7 linked regions of the Homo sapiens genome follow. The protein of the gene in region 3 purifies or fractionates together with the protein of the main gene of each other region. This does not show direct contact. Each region holds a gene or a part of one and is shown on either strand. Other genes may lie near its edges.

Region 1 (3,500 bases), on a different chromosome or scaffold from region 3:
AGGTGTAACCCTAAAACCAATAAATCAAGAAACAGATTAGGCAGATTACTTGGAAATTTGGAATTAAAGGCTAGAACAGACAGGTAAAAGTATGAGAGGAGGTCTCAGAGATAAGAGAAGGATGGGGAGGTGGGGAGAAGAAGACTAAAATTTTTTATCATGAGAATTATAACATTACTTTTATTATATTGACAAAAATCAAAAGTAGTTAAGAAGAACTCAAAAACTAAACTTATTATCTCCTTCCCTAAACTTGTCCTTACTTCCCTATTTTTCATCTTGGTTGGAAATACTCCCATCAACTCAAGTACTAAAGCCAGAAATCCAGGATGTATTCTTTATTTATCCATTTTTCTCTGGCCCTGCATTCCCACAGCCAATCAATCACCAACTGAATCTCCTAGATGTTCTTCAAATTCACCTTCACCTCTCTAAATCTACTCTCATGGCCTAATCCAGTTCTTTATTGTGACTTGCCTGGACTACTGCAAACCTCCAAACTAGTTTCCAACCTTGACTTTAACTCCTAATTAAATGAATCCCTCTATACTTCCCTCATGTGCTGCTGTCTCTCCTATTGAGGTGGCATCACTGTCTGGGGTAAATACCTGGGGTTCGCCATCTCATGCCAAGATTAAGGACATGGACACGCACAAGGAGTGAGTTTAGGAGCAGAGGTTTAGTAGGCAAAAGAAAGAGAAAGGAGAACACTTCTCTCTCTTGCAAGAGAGGGGCATCTGAATGGGAAATCTGGCCCTCCGTGGAGTGCACCAGATTTTATAGACAGGCTTGAGGAGGTGGTGTCTGATTTATATAGACAAAGATTGGCCCACAGATTGGCTGGACCAGGTGTGACATTTACATAGCATGCAGGGAAGCTGGCCACCTCACCCTAACCTTATTAAGCAAATGGGCTTTCCACTTGGCCAGCATTACTGTCTGTTCCCTACTGTACACATGGTTGGAAAGGAAAAGGGAAGACGGAGCTGCCATTTTGAACATGCCTAGCCCAGGTAGCCTTTTCCTATTGGCACAACTGCCGGCATTCACCTGTGCAAGCTTCCAGCTTACTTGTCTATGTGTGTAGCTCAATTTTATAGGCAGGCTGCTCTTTGTTAGAAAAGAAAATGATTTGGGGTCTGCTTTTCATTAAAAGGAAAACCTTACCGAGGACTCCTGTACTCTCACTATCTGCCCAAATAATTTCTTCTTAACGCCTATATCACTATTTTGGGAGGTCATAGAATTTATAGCATTTAAAAATTTGTTATGCAGCAATAGATAACCAATACAGAGGCAGGAGAAAAGCATAAGTAGGAAGTGGAGAAATAGGATGGAATCTAGAGAAGTCAGTAGAGAGCTGATCAGGGAGAGTTTTCTAGATATGCTAAGAATCTTTATCCTCTAGTGACTAGGAACTACTGAAGGGCTTGATAATTTGAAAAGAGTACTATGAACATCAATGTAAGGATGGACTTAAGCCAGAAAGACAGCAGGCAGGAAGGCCAGTTAATATGTTTCACAATAATCTAGAATAAAGATGACAGGAGTTTGAACTAGGGCTGGAAACTAGTAATAATAGCGTGGAGAGGGCAGACTTAAAAATAATTAGAAGGTTGACTGGGAGCAGTGGCTCACGCCTGTAATCCCAGCACTTTGGGAGGCCAAGGTGGGTAAGATCACCAGAGGTCAGGAGTTCCAGACCAGCCTGGCCAACATGACAAAACCCTGTCTCTACAAAAAAATACAAAAATTAGCCAGGCTTGGTGGTATGTGCCTGTAATCCCAGCTATTCAGGAGGCTGAGGTGGGAGGATCACTTGAACACCGGAGGCAGAGGTTGCAGTGATCCAAGACCACGCTGCTGCACTCCAGCCTGGGCAAAAGAGCGAGACTACGTCTCCAAATAATAATAATAAGAAGAAGAAGAAGAAAGTAAAACTGGAAGAAACTTGTGATTATATATTAGAGTTGAAATAGAACAAAGAATCTAGGATGATCCCAGATGTGACTTAGATGGCTGGGTGGGTGGACAGTGGTGCCATTAACCGAGAAAGAGAGAGACCCAGATCCCTGGGAGTGAAAATCAGCTCTGCTGCTAATCAGTCTAAGATGCTCCCAACAGAACATTAACAATGTTTCTATATACCCAAGGCCACTCTGCAGCTGCAGTATGATGGACAGTCCTTTTTTCTGAGCAACTGCTGTATTCTTACCAATGATAGCGCTTTGTCCCTCCCATCTCCTGAACAGAGACTGCTGAGAGTCTAAGTTCCTGAGCTGCCACGGGCACTTGGCAGCAGCTAATCCAGCGGGTACCTCTTCCCTGATCCCTCCTTCGACTCATTCAGCACAAGGCCAAATATTTCAGAGGCCTCTTCCCACTTCTCCCAACCTTTGGGTATGTGTCCTCCTTTGCTGGACATAATGCTAACACACCTAACTTTGTGTCATTACACATGTATTTCTCATATTCTCTGCTGAGTGGGTTTCAACTTCCATCCCACTTGAAAGGTGTGCTGAGAAAAGGTAGAAGGAGACTAAAAAATAGGGAGAAAAGAGACAATAAAGCCAGACCGTAGAGGATGGCTGCGGGCTCCCTATAGTACATTACATTCTAAGACGAGCAGGAAAGGCTCTGCCACAATTCCTGAATGTACAAGGTCAAAAGTTCCAGCCTTCACTTTGCCAACAGGTATATCCTTGGGCAAGCCAATTCACTTCTCCCCTTGGACTTCAGTTCCTTCATTTGTAAATTCTGGAGATTAGATGGACTATATAATTCCCAAAATCCCTTTCAGCTTGGAATGTCTAAGATTCTAAAAATGCAGCCAAGGAGATCAGGCTAAAACTGCTTCAGGCTTTGAGTCACAGGGATGATTCACGCAGGCTACCTTAATGAAAGAACTTCCACATCTGCTCTAGGTGCCCTGAACCTACACATTTCTGTCAGTGTTCGTAAGACAACCTAAGAAACCTAAGAAAGGCTATTCTTGGGGGGGCAGGGGGGCTACAACACTGATTAAATTACATGTTTTTTAAGCACAGATTTTTTAAAAATCCTATTAAAATTCTAAATCAGTGGCTTCCAGCAATTTTTCTCTGAAACAGACGTCTCGGATTTTGCAGACACCAATGTTCAGGCACACGTGTACACAAGAATGGTGGAAAGAGTCATGGTTTTACATGGAGTGTGCAGTCTGCCAGCTCAGAAATCTCCTGTGTCCCAACGGCACAGGCGGTTCATTCTCCTGCCAGCCAAGTTAATTCTACCAACATGCCAATAGTTAGAAGGGGAGAAAACAAAACAAAACAAATTATTTCCACTTGACTTGCTGATTGCTAATAATATTCTTCATCAAGTAACCCAGGCAGGAACACTTTTCATCTTCAGAATTAGCTATGGCTGCCATTTCCCCTTTTGTCAAATACAGGGAGATATTTCCCACGGTCTGCACATGACTCAGAATGGCTTCATCTTTATTTCACGTTCTACATTTC
Region 2 (3,540 bases), on a different chromosome or scaffold from region 3:
TTGGCTCCTGGGGGTGACGTGGGGACACTGCCCCAACCCCCGTGGACAAGCCCTGGGTCTGCCTTGGCTCCTGGGGGTGGGGTGCTGCCTCCACAGCTGCCCTGTCCTGGTGTCTGCCCTCCATCCAGAGTGTTCCCGTCGCCCCAGCACCTGGCCTGTGCTCCAGCCCCTGGAGACCTTCACACGTGTGGGTGGAGCCGGCACCTCTGGACGGCCTCGAGTGATCGGTGTTCTATTTTGCAAGCGCATGTTTTCCAATATACGTGGTGCTCTGCGTTATAGAAACAGTAGTTGCCCCTCATGGACAACCAGATGCCGAGTTTCCGATCTCCATCTCCACAGGCTCACCAGCTGGATTCCCTCCTGGGGGCTTCATTCCCAAAACGGCCACCACGCCCAAAGGCAGCAGCTCCTGGCAGACAAGTCGGCCGCCAGCCCAGGGCGCCTCATGGCCCCCTCAGGCCAAGCCGCCCCCCAAAGCCTGCACACAGCCAAGGCCTAACTATGCCTCGAACTTCAGTGTGATCGGGGCGCGGGAGGAGCGGGGGGTCCGCGCACCCAGCTTTGGTGAGTCCCCCACTCTCTGTTGCTGTGGAGTTTGCAGAGACCTCCCTGAATTGGCTAAAGGTAGAACCTATGTTGTTTTCTTCATCTCAGAGCCCAGTCCTGGGACAGGCACGGCCAAGCCACTCAGAGAACGACGCGGTTTCCGATGTGTGTTCACTGGTCTCTCTCTGGGTCAGGCCTCTGGGTCCCTCTTGTTCCAGTGACACCTTCTTGACCTGTTTTTAACAAATGGCCTTTGCAACCCTGTCTTGTCTTCCCTCTTCTTTACTCTGGAGGCATCAGGATGGTAGCCCTGTTCCCGGGGGCAGCAGGTGGAATTGGGCCTGTGTGTCTCTGCAGAAAGTTTCTGTTCTTAACTGGGCTTTGTGGCTCACGCCTATAATCCCAGCACTTTGGGAGGCTGAGGCGGACAGATCGCTGGAGCCCAGGAGTTCAAGACCAGCTTGGGCAACAGTGATACCTCCTCTCTACAAAAAATGTAAAAATTAGCCAGGCATGGTGGCGCATGCCTGTGGTCCCAGCTACTTGGGAGGCTGAGGCAAGAGGATCGCTTGAGGCCGGGAGGCAAAGGCTGCAGAGAGCTGAGATCACGCCATTGCACTCTGGCCTGGGTGACAGAGTGGAGACCCTGTCTCAAACAAAAAAAAGTTTCTGTTCTTTTCTAGCTCAAAAGCCAAAAGTCTCTGAGAACGACTTTGAAGATCTGTTGTCCAATCAAGGCTTCTCCTCCAGGTCTGACAAGAAAGGGCCAAAGACCATTGCAGAGATGAGGAAGCAGGACCTGGCTAAAGACACGGACCCACTCAAGCTGAAGGTGGGTGGGTGGGCAGCTCTTCCTGGGAGCCCAGAGGCCTCAACCCATGGCCCCTGGAGCATCTGCTGTGCCTTATGGAGCCGGCGTCTCCAGACAGCAACCTTTCACCCCTGGAGCATCTGCTGTACCACATGGAGCCGGCGTCTCCAGACAGGGACCTGTCACTGCCGATGGGCCTGGCAGCCCTCAAGGACAGGGTGGCCTGAGGCCAGGGGGGCAGGGCAGAGTCAGGCCCCAGGCTGTGCTGCTCCCCACGTGCCCAGATGGCTCAGCGCTGGTGGGGGTGGGGTGGGCGGGCGTTACAGGAGTGAGTGCCCCGGGGTGTTTGCAGAGACTGTTGAGGGCAGGCGTCTCTTGGGGGCTGCTCTGGGTACTGAGCCTCCCAACCCAGGACGCTCACTGGGGGGTGAGGATGCAGCGGTCAGGCTGTCACTGTGCCGGCCCTGAGACACGCCCTGCTCTGTGGCTTGGCCGATGCCCAGCTCTGCAGGCCACATGCGCCTGTGACCTTGGGGTCCTTTCACAGGCACCAGGGACCATCCCCTTCTCCCTCGGAGTCTGGGGCCTGGGATGGGCCAAGGGGTTGCACCACCAGAACCAGGGTTTGTGTCCTCGGTGAACATCTGGCTGAGACGAGGGTCCCTCTGGCCCCAGGCCCTGAAACATGAAGACCACCTGGCCCTGTGTCGTCCGGAGTGGGCTCTATATAGTTGAGGGCAGGGCGTGCAGTGGGACAGTGTCTGTGAGCCGGGCTGAGCCCACCCCACGTGACCAGGCACTTCCTCAGCGTCGTGCCTCAGTTTCCGCGGTGCAGAGGAGGAGGGCAGGCAGGTGCCCAGGGCTCGGCAAGCTCCGTGTCTCCCGCAGCTCCTGGACTGGATTGAGGGCAAGGAGCGGAACATCCGGGCCCTGCTGTCCACGCTGCACACAGTGCTGTGGGACGGGGAGAGCCGCTGGACGCCCGTGGGCATGGCCGACCTGGTGGCTCCGGAGCAAGTGAAGAAGCACTATCGCCGCGCGGTGCTGGCTGTGCACCCCGACAAGGTGAGCAGAGCTGCCAGGCGGCCGCTTGAGGCCTTCAGGGGCGGGGCGGGGGGGGGGTCCTGCCCCGCCCGCCCCCGCATGCTTATAAGAGGCGCTTACACCGCCTGTCACCCATAGGCTGCGGGGCAGCCGTACGAGCAGCACGCCAAGATGATCTTCATGGAGCTGAATGACGCCTGGTCGGAGTTTGAGAACCAGGGCTCCCGGCCCCTCTTCTGAGGCCGCAGTGGTGGTGGCTGCGCACACAGCTCCACAGGTTGGGAGCCGTCGTGGGACCTGGGTCCCCACCGTGAGGACCCCGTGGGCGACAGCAGGTGTGGCCAGGGTGGGGCTCCGAGCCCCGGGTCACCGCCCGCCCAGCGTTCCAGGCACATGAAGAGAAAGCATTCCAAAGCCTCTGATTGTTGTTTCCTTTTTCTCCTCCCGAAGGAACAGCTGATTCATGCTCCTCCCGCAATTGTCACGTCTGTGATTTATTTGGTGTTTCGGGCGTGGCCTCTGGAGCCCCGGCACGTGGTGGGCCACGCTGCTGGCGCTCATGGGCCCTGGTGTTTGCACCGCACTTTGTAATCAGTCCCGTGGTTGTCTGTACAGAATTAAACTATTTTCCGATGACTGCTGTGTCTCCAGTGTGGATCCACTCGCCCAGGTGCCGTTCACCAGCTGGGGCACAAGGCTGTGCTTCCTCAGCAACCTTGCCGTGGTTGGATTGTTGCAGGGGCCGAGTGGAGAGGAGAAGCGGGTCCCGGGGCTGCAGCGGCTCTGGGCAGCTCTTCAGGGGGCCATAGAGCCCAGCCAGGGCAAGGCCAAGGGCGGGGGCCCCTGCAGTCCCCAGACCCCCTTCCTCCCCTCGGCCCCGGGACTCCTCTCTCCTCTCCACTTGGCCCCTGCCCCTGGGCCCTGGACCTAGGAGCAAGGGTGGGCTCCACACTGCCCCTGTGCCATCCCCGCAGGGCCAAGGTGGCCTCCGGGCTGTCGGGCTGGTGGAGGACCAGGGGCCCCTGGAAGGAGAAGGTGACCATGGTGAGCCCCCACCCCACAGCAGACTCGAGGAGGCCCTGAATCATAGCCCTGAACTCACCGCCAGGCTCTTCCTGTTTTCAGAGAATAATGAC
Region 3 (3,500 bases):
TCACTATGTTGGCCAGACTGGTCTCAAACTCCTAACCTTGTGATCCGCCCTCCTTAGCCCCCCCAAAAAATTACAATAATTTTGTCAACCAATACAGAACATGAGCCCTTTTTAAATGTGATTTCCCGTCATCACAGCAGTAGGATGAAGCCTTGTTTTGGGTGAGACAGAGGGAAAGGGAAAAAACAGAATTGTAACAGTTCCTTGATTCTGCAGATACTGCTGCTGTTTTACGATTTCAGTAATAATTCAAAGCAGCTGTCTCCTTGTTTCTCACATGCATACTACATTGGTTTTGAGCATCTGAGAGGCATTGGTTTGTCTTGCATTCTTTTGCAAGGCATATATTGCAGCTGATATGAATCTCGTTTGGGGGGAATCCTTGTATTCCTAACAAGGGGGATTAAAGCTACACCTCAATCCATTCTTCTGAAGTGAAATTTACTTGACACAGTAGGTTTCGAGACTTACATATGAAACACTGGCTTTACAGGGTTCTCAGAGATGTGGGGTATACACTGTCCTGCAGTGAGATAGTAGACCCTAGAAGGATACTATTTAAGTTGTCCTTAGCTCTTTTTAATTACAATTTTTAGTTGTTAGAATTTCTTTTTAGTATCTATAGTATCTTAGATGATTTTAGATCTTAAATGAGTTTGGCAGCCTCTTTAGAATCTGAGAGAGATCACTGTCAAGTTGCACTTTACTGGGTTTTATCCAGTTTTAGGAGGAGGGGAGGCAATGTCAAAATGTACACCTTTGGTTTTTAAGAAGGTTAACTATAATAATGTTAAAGGCTAGTCACAGGGTTACCTAATGCTCAGTCTGTGAAACCTAAATAGAATTCTTAAAATGTTATTTACCAACTAAGTATTCATGTTCAAATTACTTACCTTCCACTCTGAAGACTTTAAGGTCATTTCTAATACACATTTACCTAATTAGGAGTTCTGTCTACTAGTAAACATTCCAAATTGCTACCCAACATTACTGTTAACAGATTTTCCTCCGTATTCTTCTAAAAATTATACCCCATGGGCTTGCCAGGTAATGACGAAAACTTAATGGGTGTACTTTTTTTTTTTTTTGCACAGTCTACTTTGTGACATTAAGTACCTCTTTTCCAAAAAAAAAAAAAAATGTGTTTTATGTTGCTTACCTGAGGATCACATCCATTATCAAGAAGATTCTGTCGCTATAATTTGAGGCATCTAGGGCAGCATTTTGAGAATTGCTGTTGATAAGATCCACTGTTTCTTTTCATAGAACATGATCTGTTTTGTATGAGTCTTTCCAAATGTTAAGTACAGATTCTTCAAATTTCTTGTACAGTATTGGTTTGCAGTTTAAAGTGATTTTAGGACATTAGTGTAATGCAAATGCTTGCATTGCACTGTTTTCCATATGTATAAAAACAATGCTCCTAAAATCCCTAATTCTTTAAAACTGCCTGTGTTTCATTATAAAAAGTTGGCTTTGTGTAATTACACCGAGCCATACAACCTATAAAGTGAAAATACTGCAGATTTTAGGACCCCTTCTTCTCTAGTCACAATCATTTTAAACAGTGTACCCCAGGATGAAAAAAGCTCCATGGCTGACATGTACAATTACATGTATTAATGACTGCTCTACATCCTATGTTCTGCCTTTGGCCACCACCTCTATTCCACATATAATTCATCATTCTTGTTTGCCTGCAGACTCTTGCAGTGCCTTGTAATATTTACAATCTTTTCAGGTTTTTGCTGGAAAGAAAAGTAGTCTTCTAAAGTTTGAAGATGGTGAATAGTGTACTGCTGTCTCCATGCTGACTGCAGTAACCGGGTTATCATATATGTTATGTATACATTATGTATATATAACATGTGTACATTTAAAAATACAGAAAAAAGTGAGCTTGTGCAGAAATGGAGAAAACAATGTTATTCTCATCACTGTGGGGTTTTATTAAAATTATTTTTTCCCATGACTTACATGTTTGGTTCAGATTATAGTCACTTTGACTGTAAATACTGGCTAGTTTTCTATCCAGGGCTTTTGCATTATTTCATAATTTTGCTAAATCATATAATAGTGCTATTTTCATCCTTGTCTGAGGTACTTTTCCTCCCCAGAAATAATTAACTTGAGGTAAAGCTCAGAAATTCCCTTCTTAACAAAGAGCCTACTATATAAAAAGGGCCTTCCTTTCCAAAAAACACACAAACCTGTCCTTTTCATTTTCCTTCTTGTAGAGGAGAAAATGGTTGTACTTAACCATCCTGCTTGTAAAGTTTATTCAGAGGATAGTCTGTATGTCCAGCCACCATGTTTACTTCTCAAAGTGCAAGTCTGATGAATAGTACTGTATCTCCATATGTGGTAATGTGAGCATTTCATCATGAAGTACCTGCTGCTATGTCTGTGAAGTTGGGTGTAACATCATAAGAATATGAAACCAGTATTGGTGTAAATCTAATGAAAATAACCCTATGTATATTTGTAGCAGTCTTGAATCTCTATTTAAGGTAATTTGCTGTAATATAACAAATATTCATTCTGTTTTTCATCCCTTCCTTGCCAGTTTTATATCAAGCATGAATTCCAATGGTTTGACAGCAAAATTATCTGTGAAAGTTTAAAAGGCACTTTTCTGCTGTGATTTTTGGATTGAGTGTGGAGTGTTATGTACAGTTTGATGGGATATATCATTTTAGAACCCCAGATTTAATTCTAGTCCAATTAATTTTGTTTAACTACCTCGTTTTCAGTGCTGTTTTGGGTGCACAAGTAAACACTACCTGTGAAACTTGCTTTTTTGCCTTGATTCTCAGTATTCTTTCAGATTATAAATCTGGTCTGCCTCTTTTTTCCCAGTGCTAGCCAACAGTTTGAGATGAGAGGGATCATCACTCTCATCTGTGTTTAAGTGGAGAGCCATGTGCTTCTGTGAAATATGCTTTGGGGATTTGGGGGTGGAGAGCAGAAGAATAATTGAAATTGGTGGCAATATAGGATTTAGGTGTAGGAGTTAGTTATAAAATAAACAAATGGTAAGAAAGTACCTGAATTAGACAATCCAGTGCCTATAACTTTGCATTTTTTATTAGAGATGCATTTCTCGTCTGTGTGCCTAAAGGGCAATGGGTTGAAATTGCTTTAACTACCACAGCGAAATATTTGACAAATCCTTCAGCAATGGCCTATCATTCAACATATATTAGCACAGTGCTAGGTATTTGCAGTGGTATTTTGTTACCTTAAAACGGCCAAATGCATTTAGTTGAAATGTAGTTGATAGTAAGGGTTTTATATAACTTTATCCAATCTCTAAAGTTTATGGAAGCATTGACTTTCTTCTTTGCTGTCTTTTCTGAGTGATGAAAATGATGCATTCCTTTTTTTTCCTTGAAAACTCAGCAAATGTTTGTAACCAGATGTTCCTTGTTTCACATGTTTACTGTGTAACACTACAGCATATTTAATATTGGTAAATACTGTATTTCAGTCATTATGCA
Region 4 (3,500 bases), on a different chromosome or scaffold from region 3:
AATTCTCAATCAAGTACAACTTAGAATCCATGTCTCAGGAAAGCATTGCTCCCACCAGTAATCTCTCGGCCTGAGAAACTGAAGAATCCTTGTATAGCTAGGTGTGGCAGCTCACACTTGTAGTCCCAGCTACATTGGAGGCTGAGATGGGAGGATCACCTGAGCCCAGAGGTCGGAAGTTGCAGTGAGCTATGGTGGCACCACTACACTCCAGCCTGGGTGACAGAGCACGACCCTATCTCAAAAAACAAACAAACAAACAAGAATCCTCTTTATCATTTGTGAGCTCTTTTTACCCGCATGGCTTCTCCTCCTTACTTTCCAACCTCTTGCTCTCTGTCTTCTTATAGATTGGAGCTAAACATGGTGTTATTTACTTGATCACAAAGTATGGCTATCTTCATCTGTACGACCTAGAGTCTGGCGTGTGCATCTGCATGAACCGTATTAGTGCTGACACAATATTTGTCACTGCTCCACACAAACCAACCTCTGGAATTATTGGTGTCAACAAAAAGGGACAGGTGTGTAACTCTGACATTTCATTTTCTACCTTTTCCATTCATTAGGGACTGGCGTTTAAACTTTCCCCCTTCTCTAGGAAAGCAGCTGGGTGTAGCTATTAATAGTTCCTGTTATTAAACTTAAACCCATGTCTCCTCCTTCATATTGACACTTCCTCTCTTCAGACAGCACCATTCCTAACACAGGATTGATTCCAGGAGGAGAGCAGCTCCTTCCTGCGTATAGAACAGCAGTTCTGATGCACATCATCTTTATACCATGCACACCCTAACTGGGGAGGGTTGAAAAAGCAGATACTATGGTATTTAAGTAACTTTTCTCAACCATAGTTGAAAAAGATAGTTAAAAGAAGAAACTCTTGGCTGGGCACAATAGTTTATGCCTGTAATCCCAACTGCATGGGAGGTTGAGGCAGGAGGATGGCTTGAGCCCAGGAGTTTGAGGCTGCAGTGAGCTGTGATCACACCATTGCACTCCAGCCTGGGTGAAACAGTGAGAGCCTGTCTCAGGGGAAAAAAAAAAAAAAGTCGGGAACAGTGGCTGATTCCTATAATCCCAGCACTTTGGAAGGCTGAGACAGGAGGATTGCTTGAGGCTAGGAGTTTGAATCCAGCCTGAGCGACATAGTAAGACCCTGTCTCTACAAAAATATTTTTTAAAAAAGAAAGAAACTCTGTACTTTAAAAATAAAAAGTTTAAGAAGAAAAATTGTCAGTTCCATCCACATAGGTCATTTTGCTGTAGCGCAGAACGCATCACACTTATCTGTGTGACTTTAATAACTACATAGACTCCTATGCTGTTCTGTTTTGTTACCATTTGGCTTTCGGCTGCTTTGCCTCCTTTCACTGTGAGGGCCACCATCACAGGTGTGCTCAACACTCGCCTGAGAATGTGGCTACCACTCCAGCATCGGAAGGGAACATGGCAGAGGGATGGTGGAGCACTCTTCTAGGCCGGGCTGCTCTCACTTGTTGTGTCCTTACAGGTACTGTCAGTTTGTGTTGAGGAAGATAACATTGTGAATTATGCAACCAACGTGCTTCAGAATCCAGACCTTGGTCTGCGTTTGGCCGTTCGTAGTAACCTGGCTGGGGCAGAGAAGTTGTTTGTGAGAAAATTCAATACCCTCTTTGCACAGGGCAGCTATGCTGAAGCCGCCAAAGTTGCAGCGTCTGCACCAAAGGTGATAAACCTTGAATACTGTTCAAGTGTTCTGAGTGTTAAGAACCAACCTTGAGAGGAAAATAAGTCATAAAAGCATTTCACTAGTGATATTGCAGTCTATTAGTGTTATGTTAGGAGTTTTTAGTTTAAAATTTTTGCACCAATGGCATAACAGTAAAGGAAGTAAACAAAAAACACACTCTTGCTGCATCGGCACTTCTTCACGCCTCCCACTTTGTGTGCATACGTACCTCTCACCCAACAGCTTAGATACAGTTTCACATTTCTGTAACTTAGCATTTTCCACTCTTGCTACCTGGTTGTCAAATATGCAACTGTACAATACATCAAGTGGTTGTTCCCTGTTTTATCTAGCGATAGTCCTACCCTGGACTTTCTCCACTCTTTTAGAATATAGCATTTCGGCATATGGCTTTTTCTTGGGTTTATTTCATTTGGATAAATTGTTCAGAGACTGGATCTGTTCCTGAGTAGATAAAGACTTTCAAGTTGCTTGTCCTTGAAAGAATTTTTCTTGTCTTTCAAGGGGTAGTTGTGAACAAACCATTTCTAGCCTTCATCTGTGAATTTGAGTATTTTGAATTAGAATATAATGATAGCAGAACTTCACTACTACAAGACTGATTGAGAGGCCGAATTCTTACTGCAGCATGCTGGGGGAGAAGTAAGACCCTAAGTGTGAAGCCACCTGGAGGACCTAGATTCCCCTATACTTATGGTTATTGTTGAAGATAGAAGCAGTTGCCTTGGTAGAGGACTTTTTGTCTATGACAGAGCAGTGTGGAATTTCCACTGGCAGATTTTTGTTTTTACATACAAGGAAGTTGAGTGAAGGGATCCCCTGTGATTACAACACAATGACCTATTTTTCCATTTATTATTAGGGAATCCTGCGTACCAGAGAGACGGTCCAGAAATTCCAGAGTATACCCGCTCAGTCTGGCCAGGCTTCTCCATTGCTGCAGTACTTCGGAATCCTGCTCGACCAGGGTCAGCTCAATAAACTTGAATCCTTAGAACTTTGCCATCTGGTTCTTCAGCAGGGGCGTAAGCAACTCCTAGAGAAGTGGCTGAAAGAAGATAAGGTAGAAACACTTGTGAGCTCGTAGCCCCCCCGCACAGCTTGAAAACTTGGTCCAGGCTCCCTACCTGCCTCCTAACTTTGCCTTGTCCCTTGGCATACCACAGCTGGAGTGCTCAGAGGAGCTCGGAGACTTGGTCAAAACCACTGACCCCATGCTCGCTCTGAGTGTGTACCTTCGGGCAAATGTGCCAAGCAAAGTGATCCAGTGTTTTGCAGAAACAGGCCAATTCCAGAAAATTGTGCTCTATGCCAAAAAGGTAACGTGTGTTGAACCACTGGCATCTCACAGATTACTCACGTGTGGTTGAGTGGTTGCTGATTTTAAAGTTTATAAAATACCCTTCTTTGTAAGTCCTCTGGTGTGAGAGTTGGCAATGTTGCTGTTAGGATCTTTATTCATAATGATCATATTTTATTCTCTTCAGCTTTTTATTATCCTTAGTTTTCCAGTCCTTCCATCTTCGTTTTATTTGGGAGCTTTATCTTGTTTTTTCTCTCCCTCTCTTCCTTCTGTATGTTAATTTGATATTTTGGCAGACTCCCAGATCTTATCCCTGTGTGCTTACTGGCAGGCTGTGTTTGCACACAGATCAGGAAACTTCTTTGTGGTCTGGGCTCTTTGTATAGTTAATTGTGCCTTCCATGTACATTAAATCAATTCATTTAATTGGATATTGTGTTTGGCAGAAGGTGGTACCTACAC
Region 5 (3,435 bases), on a different chromosome or scaffold from region 3:
GTTTACTGTTTTCAAAATATTTGAGATTTCCTTTCTGAATTCAAGGGGTATACAGATGTTCACAAAGATTTTTTACTGTGATATAAATAAAAACAGCGACACATCCTAAATGTGCACCTGTGCCGTGGCTGAGCCGCTGCAGTGAGGGCTAGTGTGCAACACCGATGCTGTGCTGGACGCGTGCCCAGCCGGGTCCCCTGACAGGAGGCAGCCGGGGCCGGTGCGTGTGTTTGCATGTTGCAGTCATGGGGCGGGGCCGGCAGAGGCCTGTGTGATTGTGGCGTCCCTGGAAAAGATGCTTGGCAGGCCCCTCCAGCTGTAGCCCAGCCTGCAGACGGGGCGTTCTGTGGGTCCTTCCCCGTGCATATGCGTGTGATCTCACCCATCCCGTGTGGGTGCGCAGGAGGGGCCGAGGGAGGAGGGTGCTGGAGGGCGGAAGTTACCTCTGACTGGAGGAGATACCCGGCCCGTGTTACCAGCACTGGTGTGCTCGTTCTAAAACTGGAAAAAATTTGTTCTTAATTTTAACAACAGTCATACATCACAACAGTGAACTTAAATTCAGCTGAAGATTGTGGGGGGCTCTTGTTTTTCAGGGTAAATATTCAGGGTAAGTGTGAAATGGTGTGTGTGAAAAAATTGTTTTTGTTCCTTCTAGGTCGGATGTTTATCTTTTATGGTAATAAGACCTCCACGCAGTTCCTAAACTTTACCCCAACACTAATCTGTTCAGACGACCTTCAGCCTAATATCCTTGGCTTCATTGCCCCATGCCCGCAGACAGCATAATGTGGGGCTTAGAGGAGGCTTTTGAGGAAGTTTTTTGGTTTTCTTATTTTGTTAAAATAGCGAGATAATTCCAGATGCTATATGAAAATCAGGCAGTCGTAATCTGCCTATGGTGCTGGGCAGGAGAAGGAAAACAGGCAGTCTTCCATATTGGAGAGCCAGCTTTTGATCATGCACCTAAAAATACCGTGTACATGCCTCCTCCCCTTCCATCTGGCCAGTGTGAGTCCCTTTCCTTTTCACCTGCTCTTACTCTCCTGTGACGTGATCTTTAAACCCCTCCTCTCCGAAGCCTCACAGAGCTGCTGCTTGCAGAGTGTGGGAGGCGCCAGTGGGGACTGGAGCGCGGTGCGCACCCCAGCCGAGCTTGTGTGTGCTTCTGGCAGAGCTTTTAGACTGAAGATTTTCCCTTCGTAATGCCAGAAGCGTTCCTAGAACTTCCCCAGCTAAAACAGGGAGACGCTAACGTCTCTACCTCTAAGGATAGGCCCGCCAAATAGAGTTAGCGTGAAGACCCCAGCTTGACCAGAGATGGTGACACCTGGGGATTTATGGTCAGCGACCTGAGTGAAGCAACATCCTCCTTGCCACTGGCTGGTCTGTTCATTTTAACATGAACATGTTTTAATGCAGACTGTTCAAGCTGTTTCAAAACAGTCATTAAAAATACACATGCAGGAGCACCTGTATTAAAGACTTTGTTTGGAATCTGGAGTGGAAGCTCTGACTCCTACTGCGCCCTTCTTTAGGGGTCTCTCCCTCGGGGTCCACTTGGCTCGAGGCGGCAGCGAGCCCAGCAGCTGAGTGGCCGGCGGCACACGACCCAGAGGGAAGGAGAGGCCTGCACCCCGCTGCCTCCTGGACCCAGCTTTGCTGCTGTCACTGTTTCTTCAGGAGAGGCTGTAGGCAAACCCTTGTTTTCCAGCATGAAAACAACCCTGGTCCCAGCAGGGCAGGCTCTTTTCTGTGTCTCGCTGTTTCAGGAGCCTGCTATTCCTGGGATTCTTAAAGTTTTCCTGCCCTACTAAGCACCAGTTTCTGCTAACGGTGACAAAAATTGTGTGTGTAAGACCCAGAGCCGAGGCTCAGAGTGAAAACAGACAAGTAGTATATAATCTAAGTGACTTTTTAAAATGGAGGAGCCATTCTGGAAGCGTGAGAAGCAGACAGTGTTTTGAGGATTGTCTGGGTGGAAGGGCAGGGCCGGGTGGTGTGGCTGCCCTCGACCCGTAGCTGGTGGTCCTAGAGTGTGGTGAGTGTGCTCGCCTCCACGGGTCCTGCTGGGGCTCTAGCCCGGCCCGTTTCCGCTTCTGCCACTGGGACTTGCTCAGCTGGATTCCTTAACGCACGCACACCTGAACCTGCAGACCAAGCCCGTGGACCCGACCGTGGAGGGGGGCGCGCAGGTGCAGCAGGTGGTCAACATAGAGTGCGTGTCCGACTTCACGGAGGCGCCAGTCCTCAACATTCAGTTCAGGTAAGAGCCGCCTGTGCGCCCCGGGCCAAGGGGTGTGTGGGCGCCTGAGCTGTGTGCCTGGGCTCCATGACTGTGCCTCCGTGTCCTTCCTGAGGGGACCCGGGGCGTGCGGGTGCTCACGGTGCATGGATGCGGCCTGAGCTATTGCTGCCCCCGGCTCTGCAGAGCGCAGGAAACAAGGGGAGGCGGAGCCCTGGGCTCCGGGACGGCAGGTGGCAGCTCCCACATGGGGCCTTGCTAGGATCTTTCTGGGCACCATGGGGCCCACCTCATGGGGTGGCAGACAGCCAGGGCCCCCGCGCCACCTGCCCGGCTTGGTACCAGACGACAGCTGTGGGGTGCAGGCAGCTGGTTTCCTTCGGCCCCCTGGCCTGGGGGGCGCGTTTTTTGCTCAGTTGAGCTCAGATCGTACCACTTTGCTTATTTTTTAAAAGCATAGGATTTTCCTGTTGCGACTGTTCATTACTCTCACTTTTCAGTGACTACAAATAGCGTGGATACAGTCAGCCCGTCCCCTGCTGGGTGTCTGCAAGGTTAGGAATGTTGAGAAAAGCACACTTTCTAACATTAAAAAGACAGAGAACTTAAGATTGTATACTGTAGAATTCGGGGACATAGACATGCAAGTTTTTGTTTCATTCTTTGTGCAAATGCCTTTGCCTTTTTAAAGAAAAAACATCACACTATTTGCACAGACTTGGAGTTCTGGGAAACAGATGAATGGGGAGAAGTGAGGCACAGGGACGTCCTGCCTGAGTATGCGGCCCTGGCCTGTCCTCCTGTCTGTGGGTGACACTGGACACTGAGCCACACACGATCCGTGGGGACTGAAGGCTCGGCCCCCCGACCCGCTCTGGTGGGTGGCAGTAGATCGGGACGCTTCTCACTCCAGGCTCTTTCCCGGTCCCTGGGGCTCTCAGAGGAGTAGCTGACTGTCTCTTTCTGCTGCTGCTGCTGCTGGCAGGTATGGGGGCACCTTCCAGAACGTGTCTGTGCAGCTGCCCATCACTCTCAACAAATTCTTCCAGCCGACAGAAATGGCTTCTCAGGATTTCTTTCAACGTTGGAAGCAGTTGAGCAAGTGAGAAACCTGTTTCCTGTAGGGGTCAGGGGTGGGGACGGGGCTCATTTGAAAAGGTGGGTTTTGGTCTCTGGCCTGGCTGAGAACA
Region 6 (3,500 bases), on a different chromosome or scaffold from region 3:
GGATTCTGGGTCAGGGACCAGAAGGCTGTTCATGGCCGTTCCATGGCTGGTTCCTTTTCTGGTTACAGTATTTCTCACAAAAATTCCTAAGAGCAACCCTCCAAAGAGGGTGCAAAAAGTCTGAACTGACAAAGAAAGGAGTATGAGGCCAGGAGAAAAGGCAGAAGTGAACTGCTGAGAGAAAAAAAACACACTCTTTGAGGACCTAAATCACAGGTGGGAGGGGGAAAGAAGTATGTTGTTTCTAGACCTCTGCTTATAACCGGAAGATTCCTTCCTGTGACACTACCTGATCTTTATTTTCTTTCCTTCTTTTTCTTTTTTTATTTGAGACAGAGTCTGCCTCTGTCATATAAGCTGGAGTGCAGTGGAGCAATCACAGCTCACTGCAGCCTCAACTTCCCAGGCTCAAGCGATCCTCCCACCTCAGCCTCCCAAGTAGCTGGGACTACAAGTACGTGCCACCACGCCTGGCTAATTTTTGTATTTTTTGTAGAGATGGGGTCTTACCACGTTGCCCATGCCGGTCTTGAACTTCTGGGCTTAAGTGATCTGCCCACCTTTGGCCTCCCAAAGTGCTGGGCTTATAGGCATAAGCCACTGAGCCTGGCTGATCTTTATTTCATTTACCTGATATATTTGAGGCACTAACACTTACAATAAACAAACAGATACCTAGTACTTTGTTACCATATACAGATTAGTATCCTTGGCACTGTGAATTCATGTTTCAACACATATTAATTAGTATTCCAAACCCCTGGGTCAGTTTAAAAGCCAAAATTACCTGGGGGTTTGACATTTCTGAAGAGTTAACAAACGGCTTACCTCAGGACCTGAATTTGGCTCTAGGCTCTTTATAATTAACTAAGAGGATTGAGCTTCCCCATCAGATACAGCTGCCTGCCCCTCATTAAGAGATTCAATGTAATGAAATAGAAGAAAACAAATGCATATTTTTCCCCAGAGGAAAAAAAAACCTCTGTTTATTTGTTGACTCTTAGATTTTTGTGTCATTTAAAAAATGATAATTCCAAAAACATTTTCTTTTTATTGTATAAGGATATACCATACCAGGCATGCATGCATTTCTGTCCTGCTAAAAGAAAAATGAACAAGAGTCCACGTCTGCCCACGTCCTTACCTGTGGAAACCTGTTTAAAATCTGTTCTTACCTAAAGCCCAGAGAGGCTAAATTGGACTCAAAAAGACAAAGAAATTTTCTGTCAGATCCTCCTCAGAAAACAGAAGATTCTCAGCTTCATAAAGCAAAAGGTAAAATCTTCAGCTTGAGCAGAGCATTTGGGACTATTCAGGGTCTCAAGTCATCAGAATTTCTCATTTCCTCAGAGTTGGTGGAACCCCACAAAAAGAGAATGCCTTAAGATCATCTTGTTGGCAAAGCGCAAGTTCCTCTGCTGAATAAAGGGGCAGTCCCAGCACTCAATACTGCAGTCCAGCTCTGGCAGGCTTCCTTTTTCTTTTCCTTTTTCTTTTTTTCTTTTTAATTAAAAACTGAAGTAGGCACTCAAGGAAACAATGACTAATAAGACTGAGGAAGACTGAAAACAGAACAGAACTAAGCTCCCCAGGGCTCCCCACCGAGACCTACACAAGCAGACCCAAGCCAATTACAATGCCTTCGTCATCTCATTTTTGGGCTTCTGCTTGATCCAAGAGAGTTTCCTTTTTAAAAAAGGAAAACATTAAAACACCTCCCTCGACATCTGCAGATTAAAATAGGCTCTATCATATAAATTCTGCTATGCTAGTTTTGGGTTGTCCAGGCACAGCAAAATGTTCTCCTCTGATCCTAAACCATACTTCATGTCTCAGAAAGATACCCAGAGAATCAAGCCCTCGAAAGAGAACACACCAGAGATGTGGGTATGCTGGGTGTTCCCAAGGAAATCACTTGGGCTTTCTAAGCTTCAGTGCCCATGTCTGCAAAACGAAGGTGTAAATACTTGCAGCACAGCATACAAATTTTTAAGTCAACAGATGTTAAAGTCACAAATTCCAGCACCAACATTTACTATGTGTGTGACCTTGGGCAAGTTGCTAAACTCCCTTGAAATTTGGTGTAATTTCTGAAAAACAGGGATGGTGACACAGGCCATTCAGGGACACTGTGAAGATTAAATGGGATAAGGTCAGTAAATTGCCTTGGACAGGATCTAGCCACAGAGTAAGTGTTCAAAAAAGGCAACGGTTATCATTATCATTCCCTCTCTGATAGTGATGTTAGAAGATTAAAAGAAATAAAATACAGGATGTGAAAGCACCTTGTAAATTAAATTGTCAATGGCTTGCATCACTGCAGGGATCTGAAGCTAGAGAGAGGAAGTGACTTTCCCTTCCCAAATGCAACAATAGGATGACAATAGTGCCATTTCTGATCAACACTGCAAGTGAATATGTAGCACACATTTCTCCCCATGTCAACTGAAACCACATTTAGTGAGCACCTACTGGGCGCCAAGTTCAATGAATTCAAAGTGCATTAGACAATCTTCACAAAGTCCACAACCTAAATATGCACTGTCCAATACTGGAGCCATACAAGGTGATTTAAATGTAAGTTAATTAAAATTGAATACTCAGTCCCTCAGTCACACTAGCCACATGTCAAGTGCTTAAGAGTCACATGGGATTAGTAAAAAGTAGATAGCAGCACCTCAGAACATTTCCATCATCACAGAACATTCTGATAAATGGCACTGAGATAATTCAGCAAACTGCAATGTGTTAAGGACCTGAACAATGTTAAAAAGAAAGGACTCAAGGAGAAAGGACTGGCTAACTTTTTTGAAGAGTAAGCGGTGACTGTGGAGAGGATGTGACCTTTTAGGCCTGAGCACATGGAAAACAAAGGAGAGATGCAAGGCTGAGAAAGAGGACAGGTCAGGGGCAAAGGCATGAGAGCACATAATACATTCCGGGGGCTGCCTCTCAGCCTAGAAGGTCGGGCATTTCATACCTGGAGAAGAGGACATACACATTCTCGGAAGTTAAGCAAAATTATGAAAAGCTTTGAAGGTCAATGTGAAGCAATCTGGACGTTATCCTCTAGGCAATGAGAAACCAAACAAACTTTCAAACACAGGAGAGAAAGGATTCAATCTAAAGTCTTCTCCAATATGCTGGTTCCAACAAAAGGAGAGAAAACAAGCAAATAAATAACAACAACAAAATCCACTTACCTCCACTTAGTAATTTCATGACCAGCCAAAGTTCATCTTTGACCACAAAAGAGGTGTAATAGGTCACTACGTTGGGATGGCTGCACTGACTCATGGCTTGAATTTCTTTCTATAAAAAGAGCAAAACATGACATAGTACCATGGGGTGAAAATTGGCAAGCAAAACACAAGTGAATCACAGTTGAGTACCTGGGTAACTTTCCTACTCGAAAGCCTACCTGAGGGGCTGCCTAAGCCATTACTTCAAAGAAGGTATATAAGGACCAATTCTCTCACCCACATTATCAACTCAGATTA
Region 7 (3,500 bases), on a different chromosome or scaffold from region 3:
AGTTGGAGTTGTCAGTCACCTGAACCAGCTTAGAAGCTTCTCTGCTCTAATTAGAATGTGACTGTTGCTGGTTGTGTGACGAGTGCAGAATCCAAGACGTGGGGCCCTAGAGTATTAATTAGTGAAGACAAGAACTTGCAGAAAAGACTGGCTAATAACAACAGAACCAACACAACATGAGTGTTCGGGTTTATATTAAAATATGCACTGGAGACTGGTCCCCTGTGGTGTCCATAAAGGAATAGCTTTAATCATATGGGAAGAAAAGGTTAGAGCTCCAAAACACACACATCTGTTTGAAGCTGGGGTTTTTTTCCCTCCCACCAAATAATATTTACTGTGCAAAGGCAGCAAGGCCACAGTGTGTTTTGAATGTGAAAGAGGCTAGAAAATGAAGCACATTTCATTTTGTAGCGTACCCCACTTGTAAGCACTTTAAAAATTCAGTTTTTGAGCTATGCTAAAACCTCATAATTAGTGTTCCAGACGTGTACTGGGGAAACCAAGACATTTGTGTGCTTTTCAGTTATTAACATGCTAAAGTGGTTCTTCTTTTGATTTGTTTTCTTAAAATATGATAGAAAAACACAATAGCACTTATGGATATGTCTATTTTGTGTGGTCATCATCAGTAATCCTTTTTAGGTCAATCTTTAATTGACCTTGCATAGTACCATTATCTGTGGTCCTTTTTAGTTCATCTTTACATGCTCTTATAAGCCAAAATTCCATTTTAGAACTTAGAATTTGCTGAAGAGGAAATGACAAAGTTAAATAGCACAACTTGCCCCTTTCTATTGTTTTTTAAATATTGAAGTTTCTTATGTTGAAGTTTTTGTGTCTTTTTTTTAATCTTAAAGAGCTTGATACATATTAAGTGAATTCTTAGGTTTTGCTTATCTCTTACCATCCTCATAGATGAGCATGGTAAGGATCAAGGTATAAATATTCGACAGAAGGTGAAGGAATTGGTTGAATTTGCCCAGGATGACGACAGGCTTCGTGAAGAGCGAAAGAAAGCAAAGAAGAACAAAGACAAGTATGTTGGGGTTTCCTCAGACAGTGTTGGAGGATTCAGATACAGTGAGTATCAAAGACAAGCTGACACCTAAGCATCAGCTTAGCTTCTTGAGTATATTTTAAGAATCAGTGAAATACCAAAGACCAAAATGCTAATTTTCTTTTCTAGGAATACATAGAATACTAAAATACACGCAGTACTAATCTTGACTTCTACTATCACATGAATCTTCCTATTTTTAACTTGTGGGTTCGGCAATAGGATTTTAACCATTAATGGCTAATTAAATGACTGCATATTTTGAGGTGTCATACAGAGATTAAAACAGATATATGCCCTTCCCTCTTAGGATTGCCATTTTAAAAAGAAGGGGGAAGAAAGTTTCTATAACTCAGAGTTTAGAGTATAAAAATAAAAAGTTTGATCAGGAGATCCATCTTTCTAATTTGAAACCAATTTAGCTGTATTTTTGGCCCAAACCAGATAAGCTTCCTGACAGTCATTCCAGCCTCAGTCTCTCTTTCTTTATTTAAGCATTGCATACTTTGACATATAAAAGATGACTGACGATACTCGCAGTTTTTCATCTAGGCCTATTGTTTTGTTTATTCTTCCCAGTACACTTAAGAGCAGCTAGAACATTCATCTTTCATGTTTATTTTTAATATAATAATATAGTTTCTCTAAAATAGGGCATAGGTGCTTGAAGCAGATACACAAAATAGGAACTGTCTTTCACGGCATGTCCCTTTGGACTTGTTCTGTCTTCTGTGAGCTCTGACAATCTCTTGCTCATTTTGTGTATGTGCAGACTGGCCAGTGCTGTGTATCTTAGCAGCTGTTCACTGAGGCTCTCCAGCTCCCCCCACCCATATATGTTTATATTTGGATTATATTGAGCTCTCATATCTCCTTCAATGGAACCATGTAAAAATCTTAACATATAAAATATCCTTACTCATTTATTCCTCTGCTTTCCCACTCTCAAAGAAAAAACACTGCGTTTAGTTAGCTGTTTAAGGATGTTTCTAACAGCAGAAAAATTCCCTTTTTTATATTGAAGCATCAAATACAAGTTAGTTTTTTCTTTTTCTTTTTTTTAAATAGGGCTAACTCATAGGCAGTGCAACCAGAGTCGGCCACAAGTTAGTTTTTGAATTGGGCAAAAATATTTCTCCTAAAGCATATAAATAATGTTTTGAAGTTTCTATTTGGGGAAGTCCAAAGTTTTTGGATTATTTACCCAAGTAGTAACTTTATTCTTCAGGTTTTTCAAAGTAGTTGTAGCAACTTAATGTGTTTTTAATAGAAATTGCTATTTGAAACTTATTTCCACACTATTCTTGCTTGTATCTTTCTTTTTGCCAGCATGATATATAATTATATCAGCTAAACTTAGAAAATTGAATACGTTTTCAAACTCAGTCACAATGCACTAACTGCAGCATCTGTATTAAAGATAGAGTTGGATATCCTGTGTGTTTGCATCACATCCTTTTGCTAAGTTATTGTTCATGGTTTATGTTATTCAGACTTAACTAATCACTCTTAGCAGTTTTGTGTTTTTTCTTTTTCTTTTCTTTTTTTTTTTTTTTGAGGATTCTTGCTCTGTCATCCAGGCTGGAGTGCAGTGTTACCATCTCAGCTCACTGCAACCTCCGCCTCCCGGGTTCAAGTGATTCTCCTGCCTCATCCTCCCAAGAAGCTGGGACCACAGGCGTGAGCCACCATGCCTCGCCAATTTTTGTATTTTTAGGGTTTCGCCATGTTGGCCAGGCTGGTCTTGAACTCCTGACCTCAAGTGATCCAGCCACCTTGGCCTCCCAAAGTGCTGGGATTACAGGCATGAGCCACCGCACCCGGCCAGTTTTGTGTTTTTTCATTCTGACATTAGATAATGTCTTGCCAATATCCAGTATCTTTAGCAGTAATTCAGTATGATGTTCACCATGCCATGCTAATCAGTTTGGTTTTCATCCACTTCCATTTTTCGTGTAAATTTGTTTCTTTCCGAAGTCTGGTTCATCACACTGTTGTTGAAATGTACATACACATTGTTGGAAAATCACTTTTTTTAAAAAAACCATCCTGGTTTAAATTTTGTCTAGAAAACTTCATTTTGTCATGTTTTCTTTAAGTTGATGGTCATTTCCAGATTCAGTAAATATGTTAAAATCCTTAAACATGTAACAGAAAATTTTAGCCTTGCAATTTTAGGAGGCAATTCAGCAAAATCGTTTTGTTCAATCTCCAAAGGCTATGTATCCTTTTAGATCCTGTAAACAAAAGTTCAAAACAAAAGCTCCATTAGCCACTTTTTAGTTATTTTGTTGTTTCTCATTGTCCTTTTCATTTTCTTCCAACCTGCCTTAATTTTTAATGTTTTCTTTTTTAAAAATACCTCACGTGCTCTCTGTACCTTCTACTGTTGCTTCTTAAGTTGGATTTGGACATGGAAATGGAAGGGTTTCATTTTGTG

The links.
Region 1: the proteins of WNK3 (region 3) and CPVL purify together in Homo sapiens (affinity purification with mass spectrometry; one large-scale study listed by BioGRID and IntAct). This does not show direct contact.
Region 2: the proteins of WNK3 (region 3) and GAK purify together in Homo sapiens (affinity purification with mass spectrometry; one large-scale study listed by BioGRID and IntAct). This does not show direct contact.
Region 4: the proteins of WNK3 (region 3) and CLTCL1 purify together in Homo sapiens (affinity purification with mass spectrometry; one large-scale study listed by BioGRID and IntAct). This does not show direct contact.
Region 5: the proteins of WNK3 (region 3) and AP2A2 purify together in Homo sapiens (affinity purification with mass spectrometry; one large-scale study listed by BioGRID and IntAct). This does not show direct contact.
Region 6: the proteins of WNK3 (region 3) and STK39 purify together in Homo sapiens (affinity purification with mass spectrometry; one large-scale study listed by BioGRID and IntAct). This does not show direct contact.
Region 7: the proteins of WNK3 (region 3) and CLINT1 purify together in Homo sapiens (affinity purification with mass spectrometry; one large-scale study listed by BioGRID and IntAct). This does not show direct contact.

The regions. Positions count from the first base shown.
Region 1 is NC_000007.14:29,136,538-29,140,037, forward strand, and holds part of CPVL (probable serine carboxypeptidase CPVL isoform b precursor), read right to left. Parts: intron 1-3,500. UniProt on the Homo sapiens protein: May be involved in the digestion of phagocytosed particles in the lysosome, participation in an inflammatory protease cascade, and trimming of peptides for antigen presentation.
Region 2 is NC_000004.12:848,777-852,316, reverse strand, and holds the end of GAK (cyclin-G-associated kinase), read left to right. Parts: intron 1-342; coding exon 343-567; coding exon of another isoform or gene 568-770; exon of another isoform or gene 771-1,008; intron 1,009-1,232; coding exon 1,233-1,381; intron 1,382-2,248; coding exon 2,249-2,425; intron 2,426-2,542; coding exon 2,543-2,644; 3' UTR 2,645-3,040; downstream 3,041-3,540. UniProt on the Homo sapiens protein: Associates with cyclin G and CDK5. Seems to act as an auxilin homolog that is involved in the uncoating of clathrin-coated vesicles by Hsc70 in non-neuronal cells. Expression oscillates slightly during the cell cycle, peaking at G1.
Region 3 is NC_000023.11:54,194,047-54,197,546, reverse strand, and holds part of WNK3 (serine/threonine-protein kinase WNK3), read left to right. Parts: 3' UTR 1-3,500.
Region 4 is NC_000022.11:19,232,720-19,236,219, reverse strand, and holds part of CLTCL1 (clathrin heavy chain 2), read left to right. Parts: intron 1-350; coding exon 351-524; intron 525-1,513; coding exon 1,514-1,711; intron 1,712-2,597; coding exon 2,598-2,798; intron 2,799-2,901; coding exon 2,902-3,054; intron 3,055-3,500. UniProt on the Homo sapiens protein: Clathrin is the major protein of the polyhedral coat of coated pits and vesicles. Two different adapter protein complexes link the clathrin lattice either to the plasma membrane or to the trans-Golgi network.
Region 5 is NC_000011.10:1,005,870-1,009,304, forward strand, and holds part of AP2A2 (AP-2 complex subunit alpha-2), read left to right. Parts: intron 1-658; coding exon 659-748; intron 749-2,142; coding exon 2,143-2,266; intron 2,267-3,230; coding exon 3,231-3,347; intron 3,348-3,435. UniProt on the Homo sapiens protein: Component of the adaptor protein complex 2 (AP-2). Adaptor protein complexes function in protein transport via transport vesicles in different membrane traffic pathways.
Region 6 is NC_000002.12:168,164,096-168,167,595, forward strand, and holds part of STK39 (STE20/SPS1-related proline-alanine-rich protein kinase), read right to left. Parts: intron 3,313-3,500; coding exon 3,204-3,312; intron 1-3,203. UniProt on the Homo sapiens protein: Effector serine/threonine-protein kinase component of the WNK-SPAK/OSR1 kinase cascade, which is involved in various processes, such as ion transport, response to hypertonic stress and blood pressure.
Region 7 is NC_000005.10:157,810,646-157,814,145, reverse strand, and holds part of CLINT1 (clathrin interactor 1), read left to right. Parts: intron 1-918; coding exon 919-1,083; intron 1,084-3,500. UniProt on the Homo sapiens protein: Binds to membranes enriched in phosphatidylinositol 4,5-bisphosphate (PtdIns(4,5)P2). May have a role in transport via clathrin-coated vesicles from the trans-Golgi network to endosomes. Stimulates clathrin assembly.